Linked DNA regions of Homo sapiens. The protein of the gene in region 3 interacts with the protein of the main gene of each other region in a pairwise test. Each region holds a gene or a part of one and is shown on either strand. Other genes may lie near its edges.

What was found.
Region 1: the proteins of CLU (region 3) and DISC1 interact in binary tests that used the Homo sapiens proteins (3 or more experiments, as listed by UniProt).
Region 2: the proteins of CLU (region 3) and PPARG interact in binary tests that used the Homo sapiens proteins (3 or more experiments, as listed by UniProt).
Region 4: the proteins of CLU (region 3) and ADCYAP1 interact in binary tests that used the Homo sapiens proteins (3 or more experiments, as listed by UniProt).

The regions. Positions count from the first base shown.
Region 1 is NC_000001.11:231,692,596-231,699,867, forward strand, and holds part of DISC1 (disrupted in schizophrenia 1 protein), read left to right. Parts: intron 1-1,230; coding exon 1,231-2,210; intron 2,211-7,272. UniProt on the Homo sapiens protein: Involved in the regulation of multiple aspects of embryonic and adult neurogenesis. Required for neural progenitor proliferation in the ventrical/subventrical zone during embryonic brain development and in the adult dentate gyrus of the hippocampus.
Region 2 is NC_000003.12:12,431,811-12,434,857, forward strand, and holds the end of PPARG (peroxisome proliferator-activated receptor gamma), read left to right. Parts: intron 1-2,087; coding exon 2,088-2,335; 3' UTR 2,336-2,534; downstream 2,535-3,047. UniProt on the Homo sapiens protein: Nuclear receptor that binds peroxisome proliferators such as hypolipidemic drugs and fatty acids.
Region 3 is NC_000008.11:27,604,637-27,611,908, reverse strand, and holds part of CLU (clusterin isoform 1 preproprotein), read left to right. Parts: intron 1-157; exon of another isoform or gene 158-308; intron 309-537; exon of another isoform or gene 538-763; intron 764-1,157; exon of another isoform or gene 1,158-1,308; 5' UTR 1,309-1,337; coding exon 1,338-1,434; intron 1,435-2,822; coding exon 2,823-2,971; intron 2,972-5,384; coding exon 5,385-5,555; intron 5,556-6,573; coding exon 6,574-6,985; intron 6,986-7,272.
Region 4 is NC_000018.10:907,871-912,944, forward strand, and holds the end of ADCYAP1 (pituitary adenylate cyclase-activating polypeptide preproprotein), read left to right. Parts: intron 1-394; coding exon 395-493; intron 494-674; coding exon of another isoform or gene 675-720; exon of another isoform or gene 721-1,562; intron 1,563-1,575; coding exon 1,576-1,765; 3' UTR 1,766-4,302; downstream 4,303-5,074. UniProt on the Homo sapiens protein: PACAP is a neuropeptide involved in diverse array of physiological processes through activating the PACAP subfamily of class B1 G protein-coupled receptors: VIP receptor 1 (VIPR1), VIP receptor 2 (VIPR2), and PACAP type I receptor (ADCYAP1R1).

The DNA.
Region 1 (7,272 bases), on a different chromosome or scaffold from region 3:
TGGGCCTGGAGTGAAGTTTGTTCCATTTCTCGCCATAGGCCATGGTATGATTACAGCTGTGCCTAGTGCTGCCTAGTTTTACTTTCATGCCTGATTTGCAATGTGGCAGGGTCCTGAGATGAGAGCTCTGTGTGGGCCAGTAGAGTCAAGAGACTTTGTCCTGGTCACTTGGCTACTTGCAGGGGGTTCTGGAAAGTCAAGTTCTCTGAATCTCAGTTGCCTTTAATATAAAAGGAAAGCTATAGTTTCGGGTCGGATTGATTCACATGGTTTTGGTCGGGAGTGAATGAAATTAATGTAAATTAAAACACATTATGAGTAGCAAAGTGCTATGCAATCTAAAAATAATAACATTTTAATCACTCTTATCATCATATGTGCCAGGCACTGTTCTAAGCTGTCTACAAATAGTAACTCATTTAGTTGAATGCTCACAACCACCTTATGAGAGAGCTACTGTTAATATCACCACTTTACTGATGGGGAAACTGAGGCACAGAGAGGTTAAGTAACTTGTGGAAGGTCACACAACCAGCAAGTGGTACAATCAGGGTTTGAACCAGTCAATGAGGAGTCAGCATTTGTTATTGTTCCTATTCCTATAGCATAGCTGGGAAGGGAATGCAATGCTGGTTTGGAGAACACATCAAGCAGGCCTCCTGTCATCCACTGAGTGAGATGAGATGATGGCCATACATTGCGGCACAGCCAGCTATCCATGGTCTGCAGCAACAGATCAGTCTTGCAGGGACATGGATAGCTCCGCTAGTGAACATTCACATGTTCAACGAATAGCTAGAGTAAATAGTTGGATCTCATTTAGAGGCATGCTCTGGCATTCCTCTTTCACGTCATTTGCTTTCCAGGCCCACTCCAGGATGAGAGTACTGAGGTGCCATAAAAGACCAACAGGCAAGATGTTGGAGGGTTCAGGAGCTGCCAAGGTTGTGTTCATGCTGACCTGTTGGCATAGCGTACAGCAGTGCCAGCTGCTCTGCTAAACCGAGGAGCTGAGATGCTGTGTTGATTTCTACATGTTCCAGGCAAATACTTCCTGAGGATTGTCAGGATTTACATAATGGATTGGCCCTGGGACCACTGAGCCAGCATCTATCTTTGACAGGTGTACTGAGAGATGACCTTTAAACCTAGGGATGTTCTCCAGATGCAGTTCCAGCTGGGCCAGTAAGATCTGCATGTTTATGGTGCTGTTTTTTCTTTTCTTCCCAGGCAGCCGGGATTGCTTACCACCTGCAGCGTGCTTTCGGAGGCGGCGGCTGGCACGGAGGCCGGGCTACATGAGAAGCTCGACAGGGCCTGGGATCGGGTTCCTTTCCCCAGCAGTGGGCACACTGTTCCGGTTCCCAGGAGGGGTGTCTGGCGAGGAGTCCCACCACTCGGAGTCCAGGGCCAGACAGTGTGGCCTTGACTCGAGAGGCCTCTTGGTCCGGAGCCCTGTTTCCAAGAGTGCAGCAGCCCCTACTGTGACCTCTGTGAGAGGAACCTCGGCGCACTTTGGGATTCAGCTCAGAGGTGGCACCAGATTGCCTGACAGGCTTAGCTGGCCGTGTGGCCCTGGGAGTGCTGGGTGGCAGCAAGAGTTTGCAGCCATGGATAGTTCTGAGACCCTGGACGCCAGCTGGGAGGCAGCCTGCAGCGATGGAGCAAGGCGTGTCCGGGCAGCAGGCTCTCTGCCATCAGCAGAGTTGAGTAGCAACAGCTGCAGCCCTGGCTGTGGCCCTGAGGTCCCCCCAACCCCTCCTGGCTCTCACAGTGCCTTTACCTCAAGCTTTAGCTTTATTCGGCTCTCGCTTGGCTCTGCCGGGGAACGTGGAGAAGCAGAAGGCTGCCCACCATCCAGAGAGGCTGAGTCCCATTGCCAGAGCCCCCAGGAGATGGGAGCCAAAGCTGCCAGCTTGGACGGGCCTCACGAGGACCCGCGATGTCTCTCTCGGCCCTTCAGTCTCTTGGCTACACGGGTCTCTGCAGACTTGGCCCAGGCCGCAAGGAACAGCTCCAGGCCAGAGCGTGACATGCATTCTTTACCAGACATGGACCCTGGCTCCTCCAGTTCTCTGGATCCCTCACTGGCTGGCTGTGGTGGTGATGGGAGCAGCGGCTCAGGGGATGCCCACTCTTGGGACACCCTGCTCAGGAAATGGGAGCCAGTGCTGCGGGACTGCCTGCTGAGAAACCGGAGGCAGATGGAGGTCAGTGTCTCTTCCACCTCTGTGGCCCGAGATTGTCGTGAGCTCAGATTAGCACTGGGCAGACGGCAGGAAACGAGGGGTTCTGGGCTCAACTGACTTCCTCCTGGAAGCTGCAGCAGCTCCTTTTGGAGCCGGCTGCACAGGATGTTGCTGCACTTCTGTCTCTTTGAATTGGACACAGATCTACTCTCCTTTTTGTCTTCTCTGTCACTTAGGTGCTCAGATTTGCTCTCCATTGGGCCGCAGGCTCCTCTGCAGGCCCCGGCTTAGGTGAGACGTGGTTCATGCAGCCCAGCTCTGCTTTGAGACAGGAAACTGGGGGCAGGGGAGATTGAGCTGGGTGATGTTTGGAAGGACTTGAGAGATACAAAAATGGGGATGCCCTCTATCAGGGCGATCCTGCTCTTCATCCGCTTCACTCATTCCCTTCCATCCTGCTGCAGTGGCTGCTGCCTTCCACAGGGTCGGGAGACTTCGCTTCTGGTCATTGAACCTCTTTGGCTCTCAGTTTCCGTATTTAGAGATAACACCAACTCATAGGATTGTTCTAAGGCTCAAATGAGAATGTAGCTGCTTTGGAAATAAGTACAAACTGGAGACATCTAAGGCCCAGCCTTATGATGATGCTGTCCATCCAGTTATCTGAGAGGTGGGTATAGCCGGAAGTAGGTAGGGTTCCTCTACCCACAAAAGTTCCCAGAGAAGCCCAGGTAGAGATGCTCTGTGGCTCATCTGTTGCCAGACTGTATTTTAATCCTGGTGTGTGTGTGCATATGTGTTTGTGTGTGTATGTGTGTGCATGTAGGTGTGCCTGTGTGTGCGTGTGTGTGTGTGCATGTTTGTGCTGTGTGTTCATGTGTGTGTGTGCATGCATGTGCGAGTGTATTTGTGTGTGTGCACTCATGTGTTTCTGCGTGTGGTGTGTGGATATGTTCATGTGGGTAGGGAAGTGGAGCACCCACTCATCAGGCATTTGGGAGGAGTAATCTGCAGAAGTTCATGCTCATTCCCCGAAAGAGCATCTCCCATCTGTTCTTTATCTATAGTCTGATGTTTCTAGCCCTGTCCCTGTTTGCCCTGTTTCAGCCCTCAGGGACCTCAGCCCAGCCCTCTGATTTATTATGCAGAGAGGGAGTGAGGTCAGAGCACAGATGCAGGCTTGTATTCTGGGTGATGTGTGGAGTCTTCCAGTTAGTCATTGCCTAAACCAGTGCCCCTTGTCTTTCCCCGAAACCCGTTCTGAAGGGCCTCCAATATTGGTTGATTTGAATGCATAGAATCTATCCAGTTTCTTAGGCCAGAAACCACAACCATCTTCCACACCTCCCTCTCCCTTGTTCCACATCTGGCTGGCCTCCAAGCCCTCTCAGTCCTACTGCTAATCTGTCTCTCATCACCATGGCCGCTGCCCTGGCTCAGATCCTTGTTATCTTTCACCTGGGTTTTGCAAGAGGGTCTACCTTCCTGCGGTGTTTCTCTTCTCCAGTTAATTAAACTAAATGTGATCATATGTGCAAAGTGCTTCAGACAGGGCCTGGCATCTAGCAAGTACCCAGAAATTAACCATTGTCATCATTAGAGAAATAGCTCCAATTTAGAGAGTTTGAGTCAAAAGCAAATGAAGCTCTCCCTTCTGTCCATAGCTCAAATTAAATTCCTATCTTATCTCAAATGGTAGAATCTGGACACACTTTTTCTTTAGTGTAAGTATTGTTGTCTATGGCAGTCCCACAGCTGGGCAGGGAAAAACATGACACTCTCTTCAATTACACTCATGTACTGCATAATGACATTTTGGCCAATGACGGATCACATATATGATGTGACAGTGGTCCTGTGAGATTATCGTACTGTGTTTTTGTTGTACCCTTTCTATGTTCAGATATGTTTAGATACAACAATACCTTACCATTGTGTGACACTTGTCTGCAGTATTCAGTACAGTCACATGCTGCACAGGTTTGTAGCCAAGGAGCAATAGACTATTCCATCTAGCCTAGGTGTGTAATGGGCTACACCATCCAGATTTGTGTAAGCACACTCTACGATGTTCACACAATGATGAAGTCACCTAATAATGCATTTCTCAGAATGCATCCCTGTCATTAAGTAACGCTAGGCTGTACTTGAGTATCTGTTGTGTGACAGCGGAATTAACAGAGTAGTGGGAATGACAGAAATAACACAGTCCAGGGCATAGGACTTACAGGAAGGCAGAGTTTGCCTCAATAGGAGGAAGAACCTCTTGACAGTGGGAATTGTCTGTGATGAGGTGGGCTGGTCAGGGACTTGTTTTCCCATGGTGCTTACACAGAGGCCCCAGACTGCTCACTGGGGTTGCGGCTGAGGCCTTCGGGACAGGGCAGAAGGTCGGTGAAGGATCTCCAAAAAGATCCTTTGAAAGAGTAGGATTTCTAGTGTTTGGGGGCCTTATTGATATTATATTTTAATTCCTTAACCTCCTCTCGCTTCTACTTAAGTAAAAATGAGAATCTCAGGAATTTAAGTTTCAGCTTCTTCTAAAAGATGGTTGATCCTCAGTGTTTGTGGATTCTATATGTGTGAATTCGTCTACTTGCTAAAATTTGTTGTTAACTCCAAAATCAGTACTCACAGCACTTTTATGGTCATTTTTCATTTTTATTTTATTTTTTAAGAGACGGGGTCTCTGTCTTCCAGGCTGGGGTGCAGTGGTGTGATCATAACTCACTGCAACCTTGAACTCCTGGGCTCAAGCGATTCTCTTGCCTCAGCCTCCCTAGTGGCTGGGACTACAGGCGCATGCCACCATGCCTGGCTAATTTTTTTTTTTTTTTTTTTTTGGGTAGAGATGAGGGTCTTGCCACGTTGCCCAAACTGGTCTTGAACTCTTGGCCTCAAATGATCCTCCTGCCTCAGCCTCCAAGGTACTGGGATTACAGGCATGAGCCACCATGCCTGGTGGTAATTTTGAACCTGCACAGAGTGGCAAAATATTTGGGTCACCTGATGTACACGCTTTCTACTTAGGTCAAACAAGTTCAGACCAGATGACATTCTACCTTCTCTCTCATACTACAAACTAGTATCCTTTTTGTGGTCTATTTAATGCCATCTTTTTTTACATTTTTGTGCTCTTTATTGGTGAGTTAACCATTGCAAAAGCTCCCTAAGCATAGTGCTAATGTCATCTAGTGCTCCTAAGCATGAGAAGGCTGTGATGGGCCTGATGGAGAAGATACAGGTGCTCCAGAAACTTTATTCAGGCATGAGTTAGAGTGCTGTTGGCCAGAGTACAATGCTTATGGATCAATAATACATATTAAATAAGATGTTTTTAAACAGAAACACACATAGAACAAGGTCATGTGTTGACCGATGGAGGAAGGTGTTGTGACCAGGGGTTCACAGGAACCTACCCTGTATTTCTCTTAGGAGCAATGCTTCATTATTCCCTAATTCAGTATTCACAGAAACTTTATAGAACATAACTACAGTACTGTGAATAAGGAGAATCGACTGTGAATATTTTATGCTGTTTAGAAATCGCTGCTTAGCGAGATTTCCAGGGGTTGCATGGGACTGAGAAGATGGTAATAAAGGTAGTTGGTGACCAGGCATGCAGAGGAGGGGAAGTGGAGTGGGCCCTGCAAGGTAGGCTCCACCTAAGGCCATGGAAACTGGTGAAAAATGAAGGACTCTGCCTGTAGAGTATTATAGGACGTTCCACAGGCAGGGTTGTGGCACAGTGCAAGACATGGCCACTGGGGCTGTGCCTCCAGCAAAGACGGGTATTCAGACATATCTCAGGGCAGTCCATTCAGGGCCTTATAGAGATCACTGGACGAGGTGGGCATCGTGGGGTGGGCTTTGGCTGTAAATGAATTTTTTTCCTGACCTTGTTTCCTGCATTTCTTCAGCTTCTGTTCTAATAAATGTTTAATGATACCATCATTTGGGTGTGGCGATGGTAATGCTATAGCTTTATGTGGCCCTCAAACCATTCACACAGCCTTTCTTCTGTCCCTAATATATAGGACTAAGTTACTGGTAAACTTTGCAGTTGTAATATAGAACAATTCAAAGACAAAGGGGTTAATATGATTATTCATTCATTCTTTCATTCATTCAGAAAGCATTTATCAATGACAACGAGTACAATGCCTTATCCTAGGCTTTGGAGATTGTATTAGGACAGGCTAGTAACAGGCACTACGTTAGAGGCTCAACACAACAAAATTGTGTTTTTTGCGTATGCTTCATGTTCCACAGAGATTTTTGGGGGGCAAGAACCCAGCCTGCACCATCTGAACATATGATCCCCTTAGTCACAGACTTGAGGAAGAGAATGTTAGGGAGTCCTACAAGAGCGATCAAATGCTTCAGCGTAGAGGTAACCCCATCACTGCCACTCATACCCTGTTCAGCAGAACAAGGAGAGAGGCACTTGTACTCTTTCCATGTGCCCAAAGCAGTGGAAAATCAAGTCAGTGTAAGTACTAGCATCCTATACATGGATGCAAAATAGTTCTTGCCCCCCAGATGCTCAAGGTTGAATGATGTGCACAGATAAAACCAAACAAAGGAAAATGATGGCTATAACCTGGTGCAATAAGTACTCCATTCTTCCAGTGGGTCAGAAAAAAAAACCCAAAAAACAAAAAACAAAACAAACCTTGGCATCATCCTGGTGCATTTTCCTCAGACCCCACCTGTGATGTATTAGCAAATCCTGTTGGCTCTATATTTAACCAGCGGTCTTCTGAATATAACCGGAATCAGATCACATCTCACCATCTTCACCATTGCCACCATCCTCACTATCATCCAAGCTCCTGTCATCTCCTTCCTGAATGTTCCCATAGCCTCTTACCTGGCCTCCCTTCTTCTGCTCTTACTAACAGCAGCCAGAGTGAAACTGTTTAAAACATAAGTCAGATCATGTGCTCCTCTGCCCCAAACTCTCCAGTGGCGCCCCATGAACTTCAGAGTAAAATCAGAACTTTTAAATGGTCTTCATGTCTCTTCTTGACACAGTCCTCATTACCTGTGTGACCTCATTCTCTACAGTTTTCCCTTACAT
Region 2 (3,047 bases), on a different chromosome or scaffold from region 3:
ATGCCTATAGTCCCAGCTACTTGGGAGGCTAAAGCAGGAGGATCACCTGAACCCAGGAGTTGGAGGCTGCAGTGAGCCATGATCATGCCACTGCACTGGGCAACAGATTAAGACTCTGTCACAAAAAAAAAAGCGTTAAGTTAAGGAGCGTGAATAAAAATAATACATTTCATATTCTAAGACAATATCATCTACAACTTTATTCCAATATAAATTACTAAAACTTTACCATATAAGTAGTAGAAAGCCTGAATAGATAAAAGCTATGGAAGAAAAATTAAAGATAGTGATAGATTTATCACCAAGCTCAGATGGTTCTGCAAACAAATTCTAAGAAACCGTCAGGGAACAGATCATTACTGCGTTGACACAGAAGGCAAACCTCTCAACTTGGTGTATAAGGCTAGTTAACATTGTTACTAAAACAGGCAAAGAATGGCCCCCAAAATAACTCTAAACCAGTATCACCTACAAATACAAAAACTCTATATAAAATATTAGCAAGTGAGTACAAGAGTATAAGGAACTCTATTAATGTAATTCACTGTGCTAGGTTAAGATAAAACCATAACTCTTCAGATATCATAGCTCTTTAGATAGAAAAATGTAAAAGTATTTGATAAAAATTCAACAACATTCCTGACTAAAACAAATTAAAATTGTAAAACCCCTGGAAAGCCAGGAGTAAAACATGTTCTCCATAATCTATAGCAAACATCATAGTTGCTGATAAACCATTAGAAGCATTTCCTTCAAAGTTAGGAATAAAACAAGAATTGCTACTATTGCTACTATTATTTAATCCCATATTGGAGGTTTTAGCCAACACACTATGGCAAGAAGAGGAAATGAGAAAGGTTAATGCTGCAAAAGAAGAAATAAATAAAGCTACCATTGCTGATATAATTATCTATCCAAAAAAAGTAGAAATCCATGATTAAAAGCTATTTGAACTGATAAAAGTTCAGAAAATTGGAATTGTTTCAATATACTAAAATCAATTAGTTTTCTGCACATCAGTGGGGATATATTAGATGTAATGAAAATGAAGGGTCCATTCACAATAGAAGCTATAAAGTATTTGAGAATAAATCTAACAAGATCTACATAAAGAAAAAAGTAAACTGCTTAAAAGTAATTTAAGTTCACCATTTGCAAATTGAACTAAAGAAAAATCTAAAGAAGAACTAGTGAAAATTGCTTGCAATCTTACCACTGAAAAGAAACCTCTGTTAAAATGTATCAGTATTTTAAAACTGTGTTTTGTCCTTTGGAAATATGCCATATTAAGCAAACATAGCATAAGCAAATTAAGCAAAAAGACAAACCTTTTTTTAAAAGCATATTTGTGAAAAAAGCATATTTGAAGCTATGATAAGAAACTGAGTAGAAGCTATAAAACGTAGATTCATCAGGAAGGAGCAGAAGTTGAAAAGGAGATTTCTGGCTGGGCACAGTGGCTCATGCCTGTAATCCCAGCACTTTGGGAGGCCAAGGCGGGTGGATCACTTGAGGTCAGGAGTTTGAGACAAGCCTGGCCAACATGGTGAAACCCTATCTCTACTAAAAATACAAAAATTAGAAAGGCGTGGTGGTGAGCACCTATCATCCCAGCTACTCAGGAGGCTGAGGCAGGAGAATAGCTTGATCCCGGGAGGCATAGGTTGTAGTGAGCCGACGTCATGCCACTGCACTCCAGCCTGGATGACAGAGCAAGACTCCATCTCAAAAAAAAAAAAAAAGAAAAGAAAAGAAAAGGAGATTTCTGAGTAGAAACACGTTAGCAGAGGAAACTTCATTTGGGGAACAGGATTGTTTTGATGCCATGCTCCCTCAGCTGACCACACAGATTACATCCTGGCCAGAAAAAGGCCCTGCAAAGAGCTCTGATCATTTTGGTTCTGATTCCATCCTTAGTTCTTACCCATTATCTGCTTACCCTTCCTCCCCACCTATTTAAGATACAAAGCAAAACAAACCAAAAATACAGATGAGTTGCTTGGTAGAGCTGCCTAGGCCTCCAAGGCGGGGCCCAGAGGATTTTTTGACTGAACCCCCTGTTGTGTTTTCCATATGTGCTTCCCCAGACCGCCCAGGTTTGCTGAATGTGAAGCCCATTGAAGACATTCAAGACAACCTGCTACAAGCCCTGGAGCTCCAGCTGAAGCTGAACCACCCTGAGTCCTCACAGCTGTTTGCCAAGCTGCTCCAGAAAATGACAGACCTCAGACAGATTGTCACGGAACACGTGCAGCTACTGCAGGTGATCAAGAAGACGGAGACAGACATGAGTCTTCACCCGCTCCTGCAGGAGATCTACAAGGACTTGTACTAGCAGAGAGTCCTGAGCCACTGCCAACATTTCCCTTCTTCCAGTTGCACTATTCTGAGGGAAAATCTGACACCTAAGAAATTTACTGTGAAAAAGCATTTTAAAAAGAAAAGGTTTTAGAATATGATCTATTTTATGCATATTGTTTATAAAGACACATTTACAATTTACTTTTAATATTAAAAATTACCATATTATGAAATTGCTGATAGTATTTGAAGACTGAGTCTTGTGTGTTTCCCACCCTAGCCCCCAGGCTTTCTTTTTTACCCCTTTTCCTTCTCCCCTCCCTCCCTCCATCCCTCTCACTCTTCCTCCCTCCCTTCCCTCCTTTCCTTCTTCCTTTATTTTTCTTTTCTTTCTTAGACATTTTAAAATATGTGAGTGGAACTGCTGATACACTTTCATTCTCAGTAAATTAATTTTTTACTCAATTTACAACTTTTCGGAACTCTGCATCTGCTTTAACAATCAGAACTAAGAAGGGAAGGGGAACTTCAGAATCAGAAACTGCTCAGAGCATGTGTTTTGTAGCCTGGATGTGCTGATATGCAGCATATCCCTGGGATTACCCAGAATTCAGTCTTCTTCCACAATCCTAACCGAGATTTTCACGCACCACCAGCAGCCTACTCGTATACTACCTACTAATCAATGCCACTGCGCACCCACAGAGCCAGTGGCCAGCAACTGAGCACTGCTAGAAACTCTGGGG
Region 3 (7,272 bases):
AAAGGCTCTGTTCCTGCTGGAGGCATTTCAGGGCTCAGTGGGCAGCTGGGGCAGAGCCCGTGAGACCACAGCCTTCCTGGTGAGCCCGGTCTCCGCCCCCTACCCCATCTCTGGGGAAGGCGCTGACCCCATCTCTTCTCCCACGCTGCTCCCTGGCTCTTTGCGCCTGATTACTTCTCATGAGAGGCACTCCTTGTTAATGTGCTACTGAGTGTCCAGATGGGCCTGCTGGGCTGAGCGGGCTTTGGATGTGAACCATTTCAGGAAGGGGAACCCCATCGTCCTGTTGGTTCTGTGATGGCAAATGGGTGAGCTCAGATAAGCAGTTCTTGGGAGGGGCATGGTGGGGGTGGAGTGCAGGGGGAGGGGTTTCTGTTTTATGCAACAGCCTCAGCTTCTGGGAAAGGGTCCATTGTGTAAGACCGGGGCTATGGCCTGTGCCCCGTGGCTCAGGGCAGCCAGCCCAGTGGTGGCAGGAACACTGGCAGGGCAGCCTGCTGTCGGCTTAGAGGGGATGGGCAGTGTGGAGGGCCTGGCAGAGCAAGAGGACTCATCCTTCCAAAGGGACTTTCTCTGGGAAGCCTGCTCCTCGGGCCACTGCGAACCCTCTCTACTCTCCGAAGGGAATTGTCCTTCCTGGCTTCCACTACTTCCACCCCTGAATGCACAGGCAGCCCGGCCCAAGTCTCCCACTAGGGATGCAGATGGATTCGGTGTGAAGGGCTGGCTGCTGTTGCCTCCGGCTCTTGAAAGTCAAGTTCAGGTGGTGCTGAGACTCCCTGGGGGCTGCAGCGCTGTGGTGAATGGGGAGCGTCTGCTGGGGTGAAGGTTTAGGTGCACATTGCAGAGGACGTGGCTGGTCTCTGGGATGCAGTCCCTCTGTGGAGGTGGCATGGGGAGGGACGGATGCATGACCTAAGGGGGGTATTTTCAGTGTCTGACATGATCGATACCACTCTGGACAAGGAGGCCAGGATGCAGAAAGCCTGTGTGCCTCGCTGATTGTCGGGGAGGATGTGGCTTGGACAAGAGCCTGGTTCCTCCGATGCCAGGGTTCTTGTTTCTTCCACTCAACATTGCTGTCCTGCAGTCCCTCCCTCCCTGCACCTCCTGCCTTCGCTTTCATTCGAGGTGTCCATGGCAAGTCTGGTCATTTCCCCCCATTTCCTCAGGAATAAAAGTGCAGCAGTGCCTGCTGTGGGGACAGCTGAGGGCAGTGAGGCCCTGGGGAGCTGCTGCAGGCAGCAGGTGGGCGGGACGCCAGCAGGCTGTCTAGCTGTTCCCATGATGGTCTCCTGTTCTCTGCAGAGGCGTGCAAAGACTCCAGAATTGGAGGCATGATGAAGACTCTGCTGCTGTTTGTGGGGCTGCTGCTGACCTGGGAGAGTGGGCAGGTCCTGGGGGACCAGACGGTCTCAGACAATGAGCTCCAGGGTGAGTAGACCAAGCATGATGTTCCTCTGGCCACAGGGTGATGAGGTCAGAGGGCAGGGTAGCTAATTCTGCTCAGTGCCTCTCTATCAGGCCCCAGTGTTACAGACCGTTTTTATCTTGTGCACTGGGTCTGGGTGCCTGTGTCTGGGCCCACTCTGAGCCTCAGCTCCGAGGCCCCTGGTTCAGGCTCTGCGTGCATCAGACTGCCGGCATTTGCAGGCATTTCCCAAGCACTTTCGGCTGTTGCATTTCATTCAGCTCTTCCCCTCCCAGGCCCCTTAGCCCAGCTCCCAGGCCTCCTCCACGAAGCTGTGTCTGGACCACCGGAGCTCTTATCCCTCTCCCCTTTGGAGTGCCCAGAGCTTATCCCTCCTGTGAGCTGACGGTTTCTGCAGGATCATTGTTAAAAACCCAGATCAGACATGGGTGTGAGTCTGTTTCACCTCTTCTCAGCTGGGTGACTTTGGGCCACTATCTTGATCTCATGACACTCCCCCCACCCCCCATTTTATTGAGATATAATTAACAAATAAAAATTGTGTATATTTAAGGTATATGACGTGATGTTTTGAAATGCACATACATTGAAATGATGACCACTTTTTATGGTGGGACGGTGGGAAGACTTAAAATCTACTTTCTTAGCAAATTTCCAGTTATGATATGGTGTTATTAACTATAAGCACCACCTGTATGTTAGACCTCCAGAACATACTCCTCCTACCTGATGAACACTTTGACCCTTTATCATATCACACTTCCCATGTCTCCCTCTGCGAAGTGGGCACGGCGGGGGGCTGGAGCATTATGTAAACTGCACATGAAGTGTTTGGCGCAGTGCTTGGCATGGGATAAACACCAGTGAAGTAGCACTTAGGTGACACAGTGTTTCGCTGCATTTGTCACCAGTGCTATACCTTACTCATTTACTCATCTTCTTATTCCTGTCGCCTGGCACTGCATTGGAACAAAGAAATACACATATCTGTTTAAACTGAACTCTAGAAAGATTTGTGTCCAAAATAACAATATTTTATATTTTGATGCTGCAAAGCTGACACTTCTGGGTTTTTTTTTTTCCTTGCCAAGTTTCTTCTGCACCCAGCTCATTCTCCAGGGGCACATGGCAGTGGCTGGGCATAACTCTGGGTGTGCCGGCTCCCATGGTCTGCATTTCTAAGCAGTAGGGTGCAGTCAGCAAGGAGCCTGTGATGGGAGCCTGTGCCAGGGCAAGGCTGGGGCCATGCTGCTGCCTGCTGGCAGGAGTGGGGGTCCCAGCCTTGACAGCCCCTGAACTGAACGGGCCTTTCTGGCCATCCAGCTCATTCCAGGGTCCTGAGGCCACCTCTTCCTCTCGCCTCATTCTGCCTCTTGCACTTCTCTTGCAGAAATGTCCAATCAGGGAAGTAAGTACGTCAATAAGGAAATTCAAAATGCTGTCAACGGGGTGAAACAGATAAAGACTCTCATAGAAAAAACAAACGAAGAGCGCAAGACACTGCTCAGCAACCTAGAAGAAGCCAAGAAGAAGAAAGAGGTCAGGAGGAGCCGCTACCGCCTCCCTGCCTTGACCATCCCACTGGAGGGGAGGGAGGGGGTCACTGCGCGGTGCCCTGCTGGGTTGCCATGGTGACCCGCAGTCCTCCCAGGCTGTGTCAGCTGATGCTGAGGCTGCAATTAAGAAGCAGGGAAGGTTCATTTGCTTCTGAAAGCATCAGGGAGTGAGATCTTGGATCTGGTTTTGTTATGAGCCTGGCCCAGGGCCTAATGCCCAGATTCATTTCAATAGATGTTTCTAAGCCCTGATCACATGCTAGTTCCAAGCAGGCTCTGGATGGGGTGGCGGCAGGGGCCCAGACAGGCGTGGCGTCCAACCTTCAGGAAGCTTATCTAATAGGGGTGATATGGTTAGGGTTAAGGCAGGCACACAGCACCCCACGTCTTGCTAGAGTTCTGGACTACTTCATAAAGAAACATCTTAAGCCCAGTAGTGGATATAGCAGGTCTAGCCTGTGCTTAATGATTCAACAAAACTAAAACACTATAATTCAATGAACAACTTATTTAAGAAATCAAGTCTCCTTAAGAGTATCCTACAAACCTCCTCTCACGGTCGCCCTACTTCAGATGCTAAGATGTAGCTACCTGCAAGCTTCATGATCCATCGTGCATGTTAAAAGCATTTCAAAGGCTCTGAGAAGTTCTGCCGTAAAGAAACCTGTGTAACTCCATGAAACCCAGAGTTTTCCAAACTGACCAGGGAATTCATTTTTGTTTTTGTTTTTTTTTCCTGGCCGCTTTGAGCACAGCTCCATAGGAGCCACTTCAGGGATTGCTGGCCTGGATGTGGCTCTACCTTTTTTTCAAGTTTCATGCCCTTTCTTGGCCTTAGTATCAGTTCTCACCATTCTATGAGAATCCTCAAATAGCTCCTGGGGAAGGGGCATGACTTGTTCTCACATTTTTGTGGTTATCACTGGAGTTTGACATTCAACAATTCTGGTTTTATAATAAAGCACATCACATACATTTGGAGAAAAGAGCCTGCTACTTCTTAGTTGAGGAGTAGGTGAGCCAGAAGGCAAGGAAGTAGGTAGCAGGGGTGGCGCTTGTGTCTTGGCTCAGTGGGAGGTGGGTTGTCCTTGCCCAGCAGGGGACAGGGGATGATGGAGCAGGACAAAGACCTCACCTAACTCTGGGGTGTGGATAGGCTATTTTTTTTTTTTTGAAGACTAACACACTCATTCATAGAGACTTTAATATAGAAAAGTAGAAAAGGAAAAGTTTTTCCATAATCCTTTTGCCCAAGGACAAGTCACTGTTAACATTTGATCTATTTTTCCTATTATTTTCTTCTATGCTTTTTTGACAGTGGCTATATTTAAAATTATGAATTTTTAACATATAATATTCAAAATGGACTATAAACATCCTTTGTAATGATGTACCATCTACCCTTTATATGAACCATAGTTTGTTTAATCTGTCTCTTTTAAGCATCTGGGTTGGTTCTGATTTTTTTTTTTTTGCCATAAGCTAATACTGTTTCAAATATTTTTAAGTATCTTTTTCTTTGTCAGGGGATTCCTTTGAGATAGAGTCTTTGTTTTGTTTTGTTTTGTTTTGTTTTGTTTTTTTGAGACAGAGTCTTGCTCTGTCACCCAGGCTGGAGTGCAGTGGTTTGATCTTGGTTCACTACAACCTCCGCCTCCCAGGTTCAAGCGATTCTCCTGCCTCAGCATCCCAAGTAGCTGGGAGTGCAGGTGTGCACCACCACACCAGCTAATTTTTGTATTTTTAGTAGAGATGGAGTTTCACCATGTTAGCCAGGCTGGTCTCAAACTCCTGACCCCAAGTAATATGCCTGCCTCGGCCTCCCAAAGTGCTGGGATTACAGGTGTCAGCTGCCGCACCTGGCCTGAGACAGATTCTTACAGAATTATTGGGTCAAGTGGCAAGGGCCCGTTAGAGAATTTTGATAGCTGGTGTGGCTTTGGTGCTGAATGCCTGCCATTCCCTTTGCACGCCAGGAGGCATGGTTGCAATAGAAAGGTAAGATTCAGGGAGTCTGCAGCCTGCTTTGGAAGATGAAATTTAAACACCAGAAGCAGAGAATAGGAAATGAGGCTTCAGTGAGAGGGTAGTCATTGAGTAGGTGATCAGAGAGAGAGGTGGTGTCCACATGGGTTCCAGGAGTTGGGAAGCTTCTAGGAGTTAGGGAACAGTTGGATCTTGAAGGATGAGTGGATTCTTTAAGCCAGGTGGGAAGGGGATTCCAGGTGGGCGAATGAGGGGAAGCTTGAACTGGAGCAAGGGTAGGCACTTGCATGCTGGGTGGCCAGCCTATGGGAAGGCCTGCCCTGGGGCAGAGGGCCTGGCACCCAGCAGCTCTTTGAGTGCATGAGCCTGTGGTCTCTGTGTGGCTCAGCCAGCCTTGTGTCTTCCTGTAGGATGCCCTAAATGAGACCAGGGAATCAGAGACAAAGCTGAAGGAGCTCCCAGGAGTGTGCAATGAGACCATGATGGCCCTCTGGGAAGAGTGTAAGCCCTGCCTGAAACAGACCTGCATGAAGTTCTACGCACGCGTCTGCAGAAGTGGCTCAGGCCTGGTTGGCCGCCAGGTGAAAAGGGGACACATGAGTGGCCAAGGCTCTGAGTGGGGAAGGAGGGGAGCCTAGTGAAATATGCTTCATTCCGCATGCCAGATGCAATTGATTAGCATTGGCTGGCTTGCCCAGAGTGCCATGCTCCATTGGTAATGTCTGGCATGAGTAGAGAGAGTGGAGTCATCAAAAGGATGTAGGCCAGGTATCTGCCTTCTCTTAGAAAACTCATGCAGCAGTGCTTAGCTGGATGACATAATAAACTGCTTCGTGGGATGGCAGAGCCCTGTGTCCACTTATGTGGAAGGATTTAAGAATTTTTTTTTTTTTTTGAGACAGGGTCTCACTCTGTCACCCAGGCTGGAGTACAGTGATGTGATCATGTTTCACTGCAGCTTCGACCTCCTGGGTTCAGGTGATCCTCCCACCTCAGCCTCCCAAGTAGCTGGGACTACAGGCACGTACCACCACACCCAGCTAATTTTTGTATTTTTTTTTTGTAAACATGGGGTTTGGCCATGTTGCCCAGGCTGGTCTCAAACTCCTAAGCTCAAGTAATCCTCCTACCTTGGCCTCCCAAATTGTTGGGATTATAGATGTGTGCCACTATGCCCAGCCAATGTAAGATTTTGTAGTATATTAGTGTTGCTCCTGTCCTCTGCTGCAGGGCTTTTTTGATTGGGACTCAGTGAATTGCTCCAATCCCTGAAGTCACATCAGTTGGCCCTTAGCCGAGCGGGGGTGGATATCATTGGTGGCCAAAGATGACAGTGAATGAACCTGAAATGTTGGGCCTTGTGACTTTTGGGGCCTCCCAGGTGTCTCAAAACTGTCCCCCATGGAGGGAGATAAAAGGAAAGAGCATGGACCTGACAGATGGGGTGCTGGGGGCTGGTCCCAGCTGGGCTGTTGGTCACTTGCTGTGTGACTGTTACAGCCATGGGCAGGGCCTGGCCTGGCTCACCAGGGGGTGGGAGGCCAGGAGGCCGTGGCCTTGGTGAGCTTCTCCTAACTGTGCCCATGCTGGCTGTCCCAGCTTGAGGAGTTCCTGAACCAGAGCTCGCCCTTCTACTTCTGGATGAATGGTGACCGCATCGACTCCCTGCTGGAGAACGACCGGCAGCAGACGCACATGCTGGATGTCATGCAGGACCACTTCAGCCGCGCGTCCAGCATCATAGACGAGCTCTTCCAGGACAGGTTCTTCACCCGGGAGCCCCAGGATACCTACCACTACCTGCCCTTCAGCCTGCCCCACCGGAGGCCTCACTTCTTCTTTCCCAAGTCCCGCATCGTCCGCAGCTTGATGCCCTTCTCTCCGTACGAGCCCCTGAACTTCCACGCCATGTTCCAGCCCTTCCTTGAGATGATACACGAGGCTCAGCAGGCCATGGACATCCACTTCCATAGCCCGGCCTTCCAGCACCCGCCAACAGAATTCATACGAGGTGAGAAGGGGTGGAAGCTCATGGCCTTTTGAGCAACTCGTTAGATGCTGAGAACCATGCCGAGGGCTCAGCGGGTGTCATCTCGATTTTTCTCCAGCAATATCACAAGGGTGATATTATCCTTATTTAAAGAGGAAAAAAACTGAGCTGGGCATGGTGGCTCATGCCTGTGATGCCAGCACTTTGAGAGGCCAAGGCGGGAGGATCATTTGAGGCCAGGAGTTTGAGACCAGCCTGGCCAAGATAGTGAGACCCTGTCTCTACAAAAATAAAAACTTAAAAAATTA
Region 4 (5,074 bases), on a different chromosome or scaffold from region 3:
CCCAGGATTTTTTTTTTTTTCCCGTGAAAGTCCTCAAGCCTGTCCTCTCCCTGGCCCGATCCTATTGCAGCGACAGAAAATCAGCAGCGGGCGGGTCTGTGTGGACCTGAGGGCCGCGTGGGGACCGAGGGGGGCTGTGGCCCAAAGAGTGGCAGTGAGTGGCGTCAAGGAACCCACACTCCGCATCTGCCACTCCTAGAGCCGGGACTAGCTCCCGATCCTAGCAGTTGCTCTCGAGATCATCCCGGGAGTTATTGGCGAGTTCTGGGCCTCTGGAGGTTTCCCTGTCAGCCTCCCCGGCCGCCGAGGGGGCGCGCGCCCAACAAGGGGGTCTCTAGCGGCCACCTGGGGACAGAAACAGTGACCCTGGGCGCGCACTTTGCCTCCCCGTTAGAGATGTCGCCCACGGGATCCTTAACGAGGCCTACCGCAAAGTGCTGGACCAGCTGTCCGCCGGGAAGCACCTGCAGTCGCTCGTGGCCCGGGGCGTGGGGTAAGAGTTTGTGGAAGGATTAACCTGCGCGCGCCGGGGTGGGTGCCTGTGCGGGGCGCGCGGGGCGGGCGGCGGTGGGTGCCCGTGGGGGCCAGGGTGAGTCTGCGCCCCTGGGTCTGGGGTGGGCATCCGCCACGGGTCGCAGTTGGAGATTTTGAAGTGGCACTTTAAATTTGCCCAGAGAGCTCTGGAAGAGGCAAAAAGGGAACGCGAGCCAGGGAGTTTGATCCGTTTTGAATGAAAAGAAAGAGAAACCAAACCAAACCTCTCAGTCATCCAAAACCTTCAGGCTTCCAGGGAGGTTTTGCTATAATTTTCTCTAAGCATGACTGTTTCTGGGGGAGGGGAAAGGGGTGGTTGTATTTACTGAAAATTCAAATCGAAATAATAAATGGCCAAATGTGGACACTTATGGACCCAAACAGTTTTGCTCACGCCAGAGAAACTGAGAGCACAGGGCTTGTGTGAAGCCTATCTCGGCAGAAGGCAACATTCTAATAAAGCCCGTGGGAAAACAGATTACATTTTCGCCATGAATAAGTCATGCAGTGAAAAATATTGCCTACAGCCTGTCGACTTATATTATTATCACGTTTTTCAACTCGGCGTGAGGAGGGAGAGGAGTGTTCATATTTGACTAGGAATTGCAGGATCGATGCAAACTCCAGGGCAGCAGCCAGACTGGCATATGTAGGGCTCTCCGGTTACTTTCTCTGTATGTCGCGGGTGAGAGGAACAGCGAGGACAATTTAGCGCAAACACACGAAGGGTCGGATCTCAAGGGGGCAGCGCTGGGAGAAAGGTTAGGCTTGAAGCGCGCGTCGCCTGCCCGGATCTTATCCCGGGCCCCCTCCGCAGGGTTTGGTGCCAGGAGATCCTGCGTGGGGAGGGGGGCATCGAGGGGCTGCCGTCTCGGCCCTCCCCACGGCTGCTTCCAGGCAGAGGCGGGCGACGCGGTGGGCAGTGCGAGCCCCGGGCCCTCCCCGAAGGCTCCCGCGTGGGGTGGGGCCCGCCTGCTCCCCGCGGCGATTGAACCTGTGTCTCCCGCCCCGCCACCCTCTTCCCGACCCCTTTGCTTGCAGTGGGAGCCTCGGCGGCGGCGCGGGGGACGACGCGGAGCCGCTCTCCAAGCGCCACTCGGACGGGATCTTCACGGACAGCTACAGCCGCTACCGGAAACAAATGGCTGTCAAGAAATACTTGGCGGCCGTCCTAGGGAAGAGGTATAAACAAAGGGTTAAAAACAAAGGACGCCGAATAGCTTATTTGTAGCGATGGGTTACCAGCTACCCTGTGTATACAGCCCTGACGCAATGAAAAGTCGTTTTCCAAACTGACTCAACAGTCATCGCTCGTGTGTTCTATCCAAACATGTATTTATGTAATGAAGTAAAGCCATTAAATGAATATTTTGATAATAATATTGTTTTTCTTTCTACAAAGCACTAGAGAATGCACAGATATACTTTGTGGACCAATTATTGATATATATTATAAATATATATAAAGAATATATATATATATATATATATATATATATATAAAGTATAGAGAGAAGTTCATACAAAGCGTGCACAAGGATTGAAAATTCGCCCGAGCTGTTTATGTTTTTATAAAAATAAATAGAAAAGTAGACAATCATTGTTTTGAATATTACTCCTATTTTTGTAAACTGGAATTAAAAGGATAGTATTTTTATCCATGACAGGCCTGAAGATATTACTACTTACCATTTGCTACTGTACATAAACAATGATGCCCTGCTCCAGGGAGATTTTGAGGTAAAGATATGGAGAATTGCTGAAGGGCATTCTTTCCCAGTGAGTCTCTGGGGCAGGCTGCTTCAATCCCAGCCTAACTCAACTGGGCTCTGTCCCCCTGGTTGGGTGGCAATTCCAATATTTCTGCTTTCTTTGATTCTCCTTTTATGTGTAGTTGTCTCTCTTCAGACTCTCAGCCCAGAAGAAAATTCTCCTGATAAAACAACAGCTCGATCCAAATTGTGCTTCTCCCCAGAATTCACGCCTCTCCCTAGGAGAAGAGTTGAGGAACTGTACAGAAAAGGGCGGCTTCGTTAGACCGCTCTCTTTTCTGTACTTCCTGAGTGGCCAGGGAATCTAATATCCCCAAATTAGGGCAATTGGAACAAAGTGAAGGACATAGAGGTATATTGGAAGAGGCAGAGCCTGAGGTGGTAGGAGGAGGACCCTGGAAATGGACTGGTTTGAGATTGCCCCAGGTCTGGGAAGCTGAGGGCAAATCCAGTCCCAATGGTCCTGACTTTGGGCGCTGGGTATTGGAAATGGATGCAAAGTACAATGTGTTTTTCTCCAGTGCTGTCCATGCTTCTCATCTTGTGAAATGGCCAGGATCCTCTCCTTTGAAACCTGCTCTGTAGGAGCTACCCTTTTCCTTTGTGGTTTTATGGAGACCTCTCCTTCCTACCCTCCTGCACTGTTTAAGTACTGTTTACCATTTTTCATTCACTTCTCTTAAACTTGTGAATGCTTCTCACTTTTTTTTTTTGTTTGATGCAGGCACTTATTGTAAATTTTAGAAACCCCTCTGTAGCCACTAGTAAGTAATTATGCACTAAATATGAACCCTTTGTTTCTTGTTTATTGAGTTTGTAGGTAAAATGTATTTTTCTACATTATTGCTTATTGCTTAGTAAAATTTATTTCATAAAACCAACCTTTGTCATATTAGAATGTGTAGTGTTCACATGTTGCTCAGTTTTGCTAACTGATAAATCATTTAATCCTCTTCTTCATATGTATGAGTACTATCTTATATCTGTGGTCAAGAGTGAGGTAAGCAAGCTCCAACAGACCCTGAGAACCTACGCTTGTATCCTTTCTTTGGCTAAAGAAAGCATGTCTGTTTCCTGTCAATTCTTTGAACATACAGAGTAATCTTTATAAACAAAAGAACCTTCACCCAGCAATCAGATCGAGCAGCAACAGACAAACCAGCCAGCCAATCTCCCAAATTTCAGGCACAAGTTTATTTATTTATTTTTTTATGTTTTGAAAAAAGAAGATGAAGAAGAAGAAAAAAAAAAGAACAAGGAAAGATTAAACGTTAGCTTGTAAAGTTTAAAGGACCTTTCCTTTTCCTTTACGGATTTGATCAGTATGAAGTCATAAATCAAAGAAAACAGAATTGGATTTGCATTCCCAGGCGGGATGGATGCTGCCAGGAGATCACATTGCAAATAGTGAAAACAGAGGCATTCGGTCTATGCCTGAGTCCTGTGTATAGGATCAATCTTCCTTTAATTCCGCAGTCTCCTCAGGCAATGTGACACGGGATGCAGTTTGCAGCTTTAGTGCCTTTCTTCGCCTTTTAAATTGCCACGAATCACAGATGGCTATTTAGTGGCCCTACAATGCTGCAACACATCAGCTTGCATTTTAGTCTTAATTATTTGTTTCTTGGATAATGGGCAGAGTTTTCTGTATTTGTATCAGCTGTTAGTGGTGAAATAGGGCTCTAGTTAACCTTTTATTTATGAAGTCTAATTTAGTGTTCCCGTGGCTAGTTGCAAGCATTTTACAGTGATCACCCAGTTTAATCTTTTGTATACTTTTTAGAAATGCCAAGAGCCTTACTAAACTGAAGCAGATTTATGATATAGTGATAATTTAGGTAGATGTTAGTCTTGAAGCTCTTATTTTGTGTGCAACTGATTATAAAAACACCTTAACCAAGTATTATTACACACATGATATCTATAACTAGGACTTTGATAACTGTTATATAAAGTGTGTAAAATTTGTATGAATAAATTTTTGTAAACAATGCAACTTGGTCTAATGTTTGGGAAAAAAGACATTCAGGAAATAATTACTTTAAAATCTCTTAAAGTATTATATTTCTTTAGCAACCATAAGATTTTTTTACGTCTGGAATATATATCTATCTAAGCACCCTTGTATTTTCATGAACTGCACTTTAATAATTGATGGGCAACTGGATTCTGCTAAAAATTTAAAGTAGCTACTCAGATGGAGATGCCTAAGAAGGTTTTAAGCTCATAAACAGGCATGATGTTGCAACATTATAAGACACACAATTTAGATTAATTTCCATCCCCTAGTGTGTATATACTTTGCTCAATATTCAGAAAGTTACTAGGTAGTAGTGGGAGACAATGCTGGAGCATTAGTTACACATCTAAAATAGCAATCTAACATTGTTCTTTTATTTTTTATTTTAGTGGCCAGGTCTCACTATGTTGCCCAGGCTGGTCTTGCTCAAGCGATCCTCCCACCTCAGCCTCCCAAAGTGCTGGGATTACAGGCGTGAGCCACCACACCCAGCCTAAAATAGGGATCTAACATTGTTCTTATACAAGTAACTCTGCAGACTAAACTTGTCTTGATAAAATTTTGTATAAAATGATCTAAATAATCAGTTTTTGGAGGTTTTAAAATGTGTTTAGAGACATACAAACTACTGTCTCTGATTAAAATGCTTTAGGTAGAAGGAACGTGAACATGAGTAAGTAAAGAGTTAATTAGATGCCTTTAAAAGAAAATGTACTTTGAAGTCCAGGAAGAAACACAAGAAGTCATT